Homo sapiens: one gene and its partner. The protein of the gene in region 1 interacts with the protein of each later gene in a pairwise test. Each region holds a gene or a part of one and is shown on either strand. Other genes may lie near its edges.

The links. Proteins that work in one complex are often made in the same cells at the same time.
Region 2: the proteins of SLC30A3 (region 1) and SCN3B interact in binary tests that used the Homo sapiens proteins (3 or more experiments, as listed by UniProt).

What each region holds. Positions count from the first base shown.
Region 1 is NC_000002.12:27,256,616-27,260,047, reverse strand, and holds part of SLC30A3 (probable proton-coupled zinc antiporter SLC30A3), read left to right. Parts: intron 1-1,113; coding exon 1,114-1,295; intron 1,296-1,717; coding exon of another isoform or gene 1,718-1,740; coding exon 1,741-1,887; intron 1,888-1,989; coding exon 1,990-2,143; intron 2,144-2,695; coding exon 2,696-2,894; intron 2,895-3,154; coding exon 3,155-3,260; intron 3,261-3,432. UniProt on the Homo sapiens protein: Probable proton-coupled zinc ion antiporter mediating the import of zinc from cytoplasm into synaptic vesicles and participating to cellular zinc ion homeostasis in the brain.
Region 2 is NC_000011.10:123,630,625-123,634,124, forward strand, and holds part of SCN3B (sodium channel regulatory subunit beta-3 precursor), read right to left. Parts: 3' UTR 3,497-3,500; intron 3,153-3,496; 3' UTR 1-3,152. UniProt on the Homo sapiens protein: Regulatory subunit of multiple voltage-gated sodium (Nav) channels directly mediating the depolarization of excitable membranes.

The sequences.
Region 1 (3,432 bases):
TCATACTGCCTTGGCGTGCCTGGCATAGCATTCACCTGTCTTTATCAAAATCCTTCCCATCCTTCAAGGCCCTTCTCATGTTACCTCTTACAGCTGTTTCCCTGATTTCCTCGTTATAATTAGTCTGGCCCTCCATCCTCAGAACCCTGATAGCACTCTAACTGCCCTAATGACAGTGGCCACCTTCGCTCTATATCATTGTGTAGGTACATGCTTGCCCTGTTCACCAAAAGCTCTCAGAGATCAGTAGGAATCCTGCTCATTTTGGGGTGCCTAGCATAAGAAATTGGTTGGGGTCTAGTCTCAGCTCTAGCAACTAACTGGGTTGGCCTCCATGTGTCCCCCAACTCTGTGAGCCTCATGCCTCTAATTTATTTAATAAAATGTTAGATGAGAGCCGGGTGCGGTGGCTCACACCTATAATCCCAGCAACTCAGTAGGCTGAGGTAGGAGGATCGCTTGAGGCCAGGAACTCAAGTGTGCAGTGAGCTCTGATCACACCACTGCACTCCAGCCTGGGCAACAGAGCAAGACCCCATCTCTTTTTTTTTTTTTTGAGACAGTCTCTCACTCTGTTGCCAGGCTGGAGTGCAGTGGCACGATCTCGGCTCACTGCAACCTCCAACTCCCTGGTTCAAGTGATTATCCTGCCTCAGCCTCCCAAGTAGCTGGGATTACAGGCACGTGCCACCACACCCAGCTAATTTTTGCATTTTTAGTAGAGATGGGGTTTCACCATGTTGGCCAGGATGGTCTCGATCTCCTGACCTTGTGATCTGCCTGCCTTGGCCTCCCAAAGTGCTGGGATTACAGGTGTGAGCCACCACTCCCGGCCAACCCCATCTCTTAAAAAAGTTAGACTAGACCGTCTGTAAGGTGCTTTCCAGCTGTGAAATTCTATGGCTCTGTGTATGGAAGGAAAAGGGAGGCTGGGCTCTGACCTGTTCATTTAGCCCCGGTCTCTCATGTGGCCCTCTGCCGATGCAGCTCCCAGATACGACCAGGCCTGGGGAAGGAGATGGTCTGATGAGGCCAGCACTGGGGACTAAGGACGTGGAGTGAGCAGGCCAGCCTGTGGGCCAGGCCCAGGTTGAACCATGTTGCTTGCCTCAGTCTCTTCACAGAGCCCTCAGAGCCCCTCCCTGAGGAGTCCAAACCTGTGGAGATGCCCTTCCACCACTGCCACAGGGACCCCCTTCCGCCGCCGGGCCTTACCCCTGAGAGGCTGCATGCACGGAGGCAGCTATATGCTGCCTGTGCCGTTTGCTTTGTCTTCATGGCTGGGGAGGTGGTCGGTAAGTTGGGGAGCAGCCCTTAAACCCCATTCTCCAAATACCTGCCCAAGCCACTCTCCACCCAGAGTCCCAGGAATGTTCCTGGGTGCAGATGCAGAGATGGGGATGGCTGGGATAGGGGAGCTGGGTGCCCAGGACTCAGGAAGTAGGAGGGATAAGGGACAGCAACAAAGGGAATTCCAGCCGAGGTCCGGGGCCAGTAGGTCAGGGCTGACTTCTTTTAAAAACCCTATTTTCTTGTTATTAAAATAAATCATTGTAGAAAATAAAATACAGATGAATGAAAAAAATAACATAACAGTAGTTAATTATACCTGTAGTCCCATCACCTGAGAAAACCCCAAATCACATTTTTGGTGTATATCCCCCAATTTATTTTCCATGCCTATACACACTACATGATATTTTCTAAATGGAAGCAGACTCCATCATTTCACCCTGGCAGGCGGGTATCTGGCACACAGCCTGGCCATCATGACCGATGCAGCCCACTTGCTGGCGGATGTGGGCAGCATGATGGGCAGCCTCTTCTCCCTCTGGCTCTCCACCCGTCCAGCCACCCGCACCATGACCTTTGGCTGGCACCGTTCAGGTAAGGCCCCTGCATGGCCCAGTGACTCTCCAATCTTGCCAGAGGGCACCCGTCAGGGTCCCAAGCAGGTCTCTGACAGCTTGTCTCCCCCCCCACCCGCAGAGACTCTGGGGGCTTTGGCCTCTGTGGTCTCCCTCTGGATGGTCACTGGCATCCTCCTGTACCTGGCCTTCGTCCGCCTGCTGCACAGCGACTACCACATCGAGGGGGGTGCCATGCTGCTGACCGCCAGCATCGCAGTCTGTGCCAACCTGTTGTACGTCCCAGTATGGAGCAGGCACCTTGTGGGGCCCAGGGCGAGGGGTCTTCCTCCAGGATGGGAGAGCTGGCTCTCTCCTCCCCACCAGACACACAGACACGCACACACAGCTCTCCATGGGCTGCCCTGCGTGTGCCTGAGAAGGGTCTGGGATAGAGACCTAAAATTCAGTCAGCAGATCTCTGTCAAGGGCCTGCCATGGGCCAGCCACTCTGATGAGGGCTTTCATCAACATGATTGCATTTAAACCTCACAGCCACCCCATGAGGTAGGTAGCATTACCCCTAGTTTACCATTAATGCAGTCAATCCCAACAGGTGACTTGCCCAAGTCACATATCTATTTAAGTAACAGGGCCAGCTTCCGAATCCACATGTGTGGCACCAAGTCTGGTATTCTTTCCCCCAGGCTGCATTGTTTATCTCTCTTGCAAAATGCTGTTTTCTTCCAGGGGCTGGGAAAGGGCTACTGGGGAGGTGAGACATGGAGATGGGGGTATAGGAGGCCAGGAGCAGGGCCCTAGGCTGAGGTGCTCTGCTTACCCCTCAGAATGGCCTTTGTGCTGCACCAGGCTGGGCCCCCCCACAGCCACGGGTCTAGGGGAGCAGAGTATGCACCGCTGGAGGAGGGGCCTGAAGAGCCCCTGCCCCTGGGGAACACCAGCGTCCGGGCGGCATTTGTGCACGTGCTGGGGGACCTCCTGCAGAGCTTTGGGGTACTGGCTGCCTCCATCCTCATCTACTTCAAGGTACCATCATTGGAGACCTGCCCCAGCCTTCCTCCCCACAACCACATCCCAGCCCACTCCTTCCCAGGTCCCAAAGCTTCCTTCCTCCTCCCTCCAGCTCCTCCCTCCCACCTCCCAGGACTCTCCCAGACATGAGTCATGTTCCCTGTCCCCTCTTCAGGGTTTTGAGGGGCCTCTCAGGTCATGTTTGTTCAAGATACCCCTAGATCTTCCTCTGAAAGGTCCCTGGTTGTTGGGCTTAGGGGTCTCTTTCTCTGCAGCCTCAATACAAGGCAGCCGACCCCATCAGCACCTTCCTCTTCTCCATCTGTGCCCTTGGATCCACCGCTCCCACCCTCCGAGACGTTCTTCGAATCCTCATGGAAGGTGAGTCGGGCACCACAGCTCCCCATCCCTGTGGCCCTCTCTGACTTTACTCTCGCAGTGGGCCATCACTTTTTTCTTTGAAGATAGTACGGGAAGAAGGCTTGGCTCATGGGGTCTGCTGCTGGAACAAGGATTTGGGCATAGGGTGAATTGTAGGGGTCAAAAGGAGAGT
Region 2 (3,500 bases), on another chromosome or scaffold:
ATTGATTTACAGTCATTATCAAATCTCCCAGGAAGGAGTTTAATTGCAATTCAGGAGAAATAATGATGTACAAACCAACTAGAAAGAGAACCAAAATAGGACTGACTCTCAAAGCACATTGCTAGCATCCACCAAAAAGCAAAGTGGTAGAGAAGCAGTGAGTGGGATTAGGGGTGAGAGAAGATGGAGAACATTAGGACAGGCAAGATAGGCAATGGTTAGATGGAAGCTAAAAAATAAGAAAAGGAAGCAGCTATGGTCTAAGTGGAAAGAGAACTGAAAGAGGAGTCAGAAGACCTGGATTCTTGCTGTCTACCTACCAGCTAGGTTTCCTTATAATTTAGTAAAGCTACTTAACCTCAGAGACCCTCAGTTTCTTCTTTTGTAATGTGACCTCACAGGACCAGTTATAGAGAAGAAATAAAATAGTTAAGTGAAAATACTTCGTAAACCATATAGTTCTAATGAAAGTGTCAAGAATGAGAAGAATGGAGAAGTTAGAAAAAGGAAGAGTGGGGAAGATAACCTGTCAAGGATAAATAAGTGATAGATACCATTCAGCTTCATTAAAAGCCACGCAAGCAGCATCTGAGTTGGGTTTTTTTAAAAAGAAGAGAAAAAGGCAATCATGCATACTGCCGGGTTCAACTTAGATACACGAGCTATTGGGCCACCGAGGAAAACGGTGTGGTAGTAAGCATCTTGCTACTACCGCAAGCTGGTGGCATCCATGAGCTATGGGACTGGAAAAATTTCACACTGAGGCCAATTTTTCTAACTATAAAGTTAAAAAGGTCTATATCCTCTCCCTTATTTCAGAGGGATTGTGTGGAAAATTACCAATAAGAAGAGTCTTGAATTTATTGCAAATATTTTCTTCAACAAAATCAGACTCTTTAATGTGTTAACGGTCTGGTTTTGGGCCAGGCACAGTTGCTCAGGCCTGTAATCCCAGCACTTTGAGAGGCTGAGGCTGGCAGATTGCTTGAGCCCAGGAGTTCAAGATCAGCCTGGGCGACATGGCAAGACCCCTGTCTCTACATAAAATACAAAAATTAGCCAGGCATGGTGGTGCATGCCTGTAGTCCCAGTTACCTGGGGGCTGAGGTGGGAGGATTGCTTAAACCTGGGGCAGTTGAGGCTGCAGTGAGCTGAGATTGCACCACTGCACTCTAGCCTGGGAGACAGAGTGAGAATCTGTCTCAAAAAAATAATAATAAATAAATAAAAATTTAAAAGTCTGGTTTTAAGTACTTTCCTAGGGATGGAAGAATGAAAAAAATGAGCTTTTAAGGTAAAGCCCTAAACCTATGGAATATGGTCTTTCCCTATAAAGGGAGGTCCCAGGTCTGAGGGACCTCTCTCTCGCTGAATCCCAGTCACCTTCATCTTCTTACATTCCATAAAGCATCTTTCCCCTCTCTTGTCCCTGGGTGCTGAAGGATGTCACACTTGGACCTGTCACTTAATTAAAATGAAACACGAGATATTGACTAAAGTTTTTTCCAGTTTCTCTGCTCCCTCAAAATCTAGGGGAAAAAAATCTGAAAATTATGCATTCATAGGCGAAGTATTTGGAAAGCACCTACCCATCCCTCCCCTCTCACACTGCTCATTTACTTATGATCCATCTCAGACTAAACATTTTTCTTAGTTTAAATATCAGTCTCAGATGCACTCTCCTTTTGGAGGATATTTCAGAGTCACAGATCTTTACATAAAGGAAGTTCTTTAAGTCTACCTCATGTTCTTCTCCCTGCTTTTTTGGCCAATTTCTAGTCATCTGAATCTATCAGAGTTGACCTCAGCCCAGTCCGTGCTTGTGAAAGAAGCATTGCCATAGACAAGTTCAATGTCAGTCTTTTCAGAAACAAAGTTATCCACCGGGCGCAGTGCCTCACGCCTGTAATCTCAGCACTTTGGGAGGCTGAGGTGGGTGGGTCATTTGAGGTCAGGAGTTCAAGACTAGCCTGGCCAACATAGTCAAACCCTGTCTGTACTAAAAATACAAAATTTAGCCAGGCGTGGTGGTGCACACCTGTAATCCCAGCTACTGGAGAGGCCGAGGCATGAGAATTGCTTGAACCCAAGAGGCAGAGGTTGCAGTGAGCCGAGATCACACCACTGCACTCTAGCCTAGGTGACAGAGTGAGACTCCATCTCAAACAAAAAAAACAAAAAACAAAACAAACAAAAACATCCATCCCAGGAAGTGTAAACTGGGCAGCACCTAAGGCTTATTTCTGCTCCAGTTTATCCTCTTAAGCCTCTTATTCAGTTGAGCCCTGTATGAGTCTTAGTTGCCTCCTGTATGTAAAATGAGGAATAATACTGGTGCACAGAAATTTTGAGAGGAAGAACTCAGGAATTTCAGTCCTAATGCCCAGGTGGTGTGCCCACAGGGAGGGCACACATACATTATCGCAATAGGATCAGGAACGTGTCCAGAAACATGTTGCATGACTTTTTAAGAGCCACTTAAATTACCATTGGTCCTTCCCAAGTCTCCTGTCCTTGTCTTCTTGGAGGGAACCTTAGAGACCCATCAGGATCTAGCTCTGGAGTACTAAGCTCCAGAGAGCATGTTAGTCCATGCTTCAGGATCTTTCTGTCACTGGAGAACCTAGACAGGCGTGCTTCACTCTGATGCTGTAGCAAAGTGGGCCATGAACCTGACAAAACTGACTTCAGGGAATCCAAGTTCATGACACACTTTTGCTTTAACCCGAACTAATCACTCCTGCTTCCTTCTATTAAGACTTCCATTCTCTTGCAGTAATGGAGAATGAACCAGTTCCAGCCAGTTAAGGGCAGAGGGAGGTGCTAACTCCAGCACTTGTACAAAGTCATTTGGAGCACAGGGGAGAAATCCAGTTGGCTTTGGAGTGTCTTGTTGGAAAACTAGGAGAGGGTGAGGTTGAGTCTATGTAGAAATGTTGGCTTCTCAGTTCTGGCAGAGTCTTATGGTGCGTAGAGGTCTGATGGAGTTAGGGAGTCAGAGGTGAAAGCTCAGAGGCAGGTGGATGTATGGATGAATGAATGAACAGAACAATGGATGCATGAAGGGAAGCGATGGGGCCCTTGGGGCGCCCTCCTGATGCCATTGACATTGCTGAACATGGGATGTCCAGTCCCTCAGGTGTTCAGGCCACCTACCAAAGATAAAATAACTCACTGAGAATTTCCCACCCAGTCCAGCCCAGCCCAGCCCAAAAATTCTTTGACCAAAGAAGGGAGTTGGAGAATCCTGTGCCTCTGTTACCATGGGCAAGTTCAGATTGCCTCGACACTCAGGTCAAAGCAGTTCACCTTCCGAAGCGCTGACATCATACAGAGCTTTCTGACTTAAAGAATTACCCTGAGGGCGGGGACCCCAGGCAGGGTAGACAGTGACCTAAGGGACCAAATTTAAAGTCACTTCAGTTGTGGGCAACAAAGTCACTTGTACAACCTGCCATCCACATCTGCCTTCCCCTCCCATGTTCCTGTAGGTCACCTCA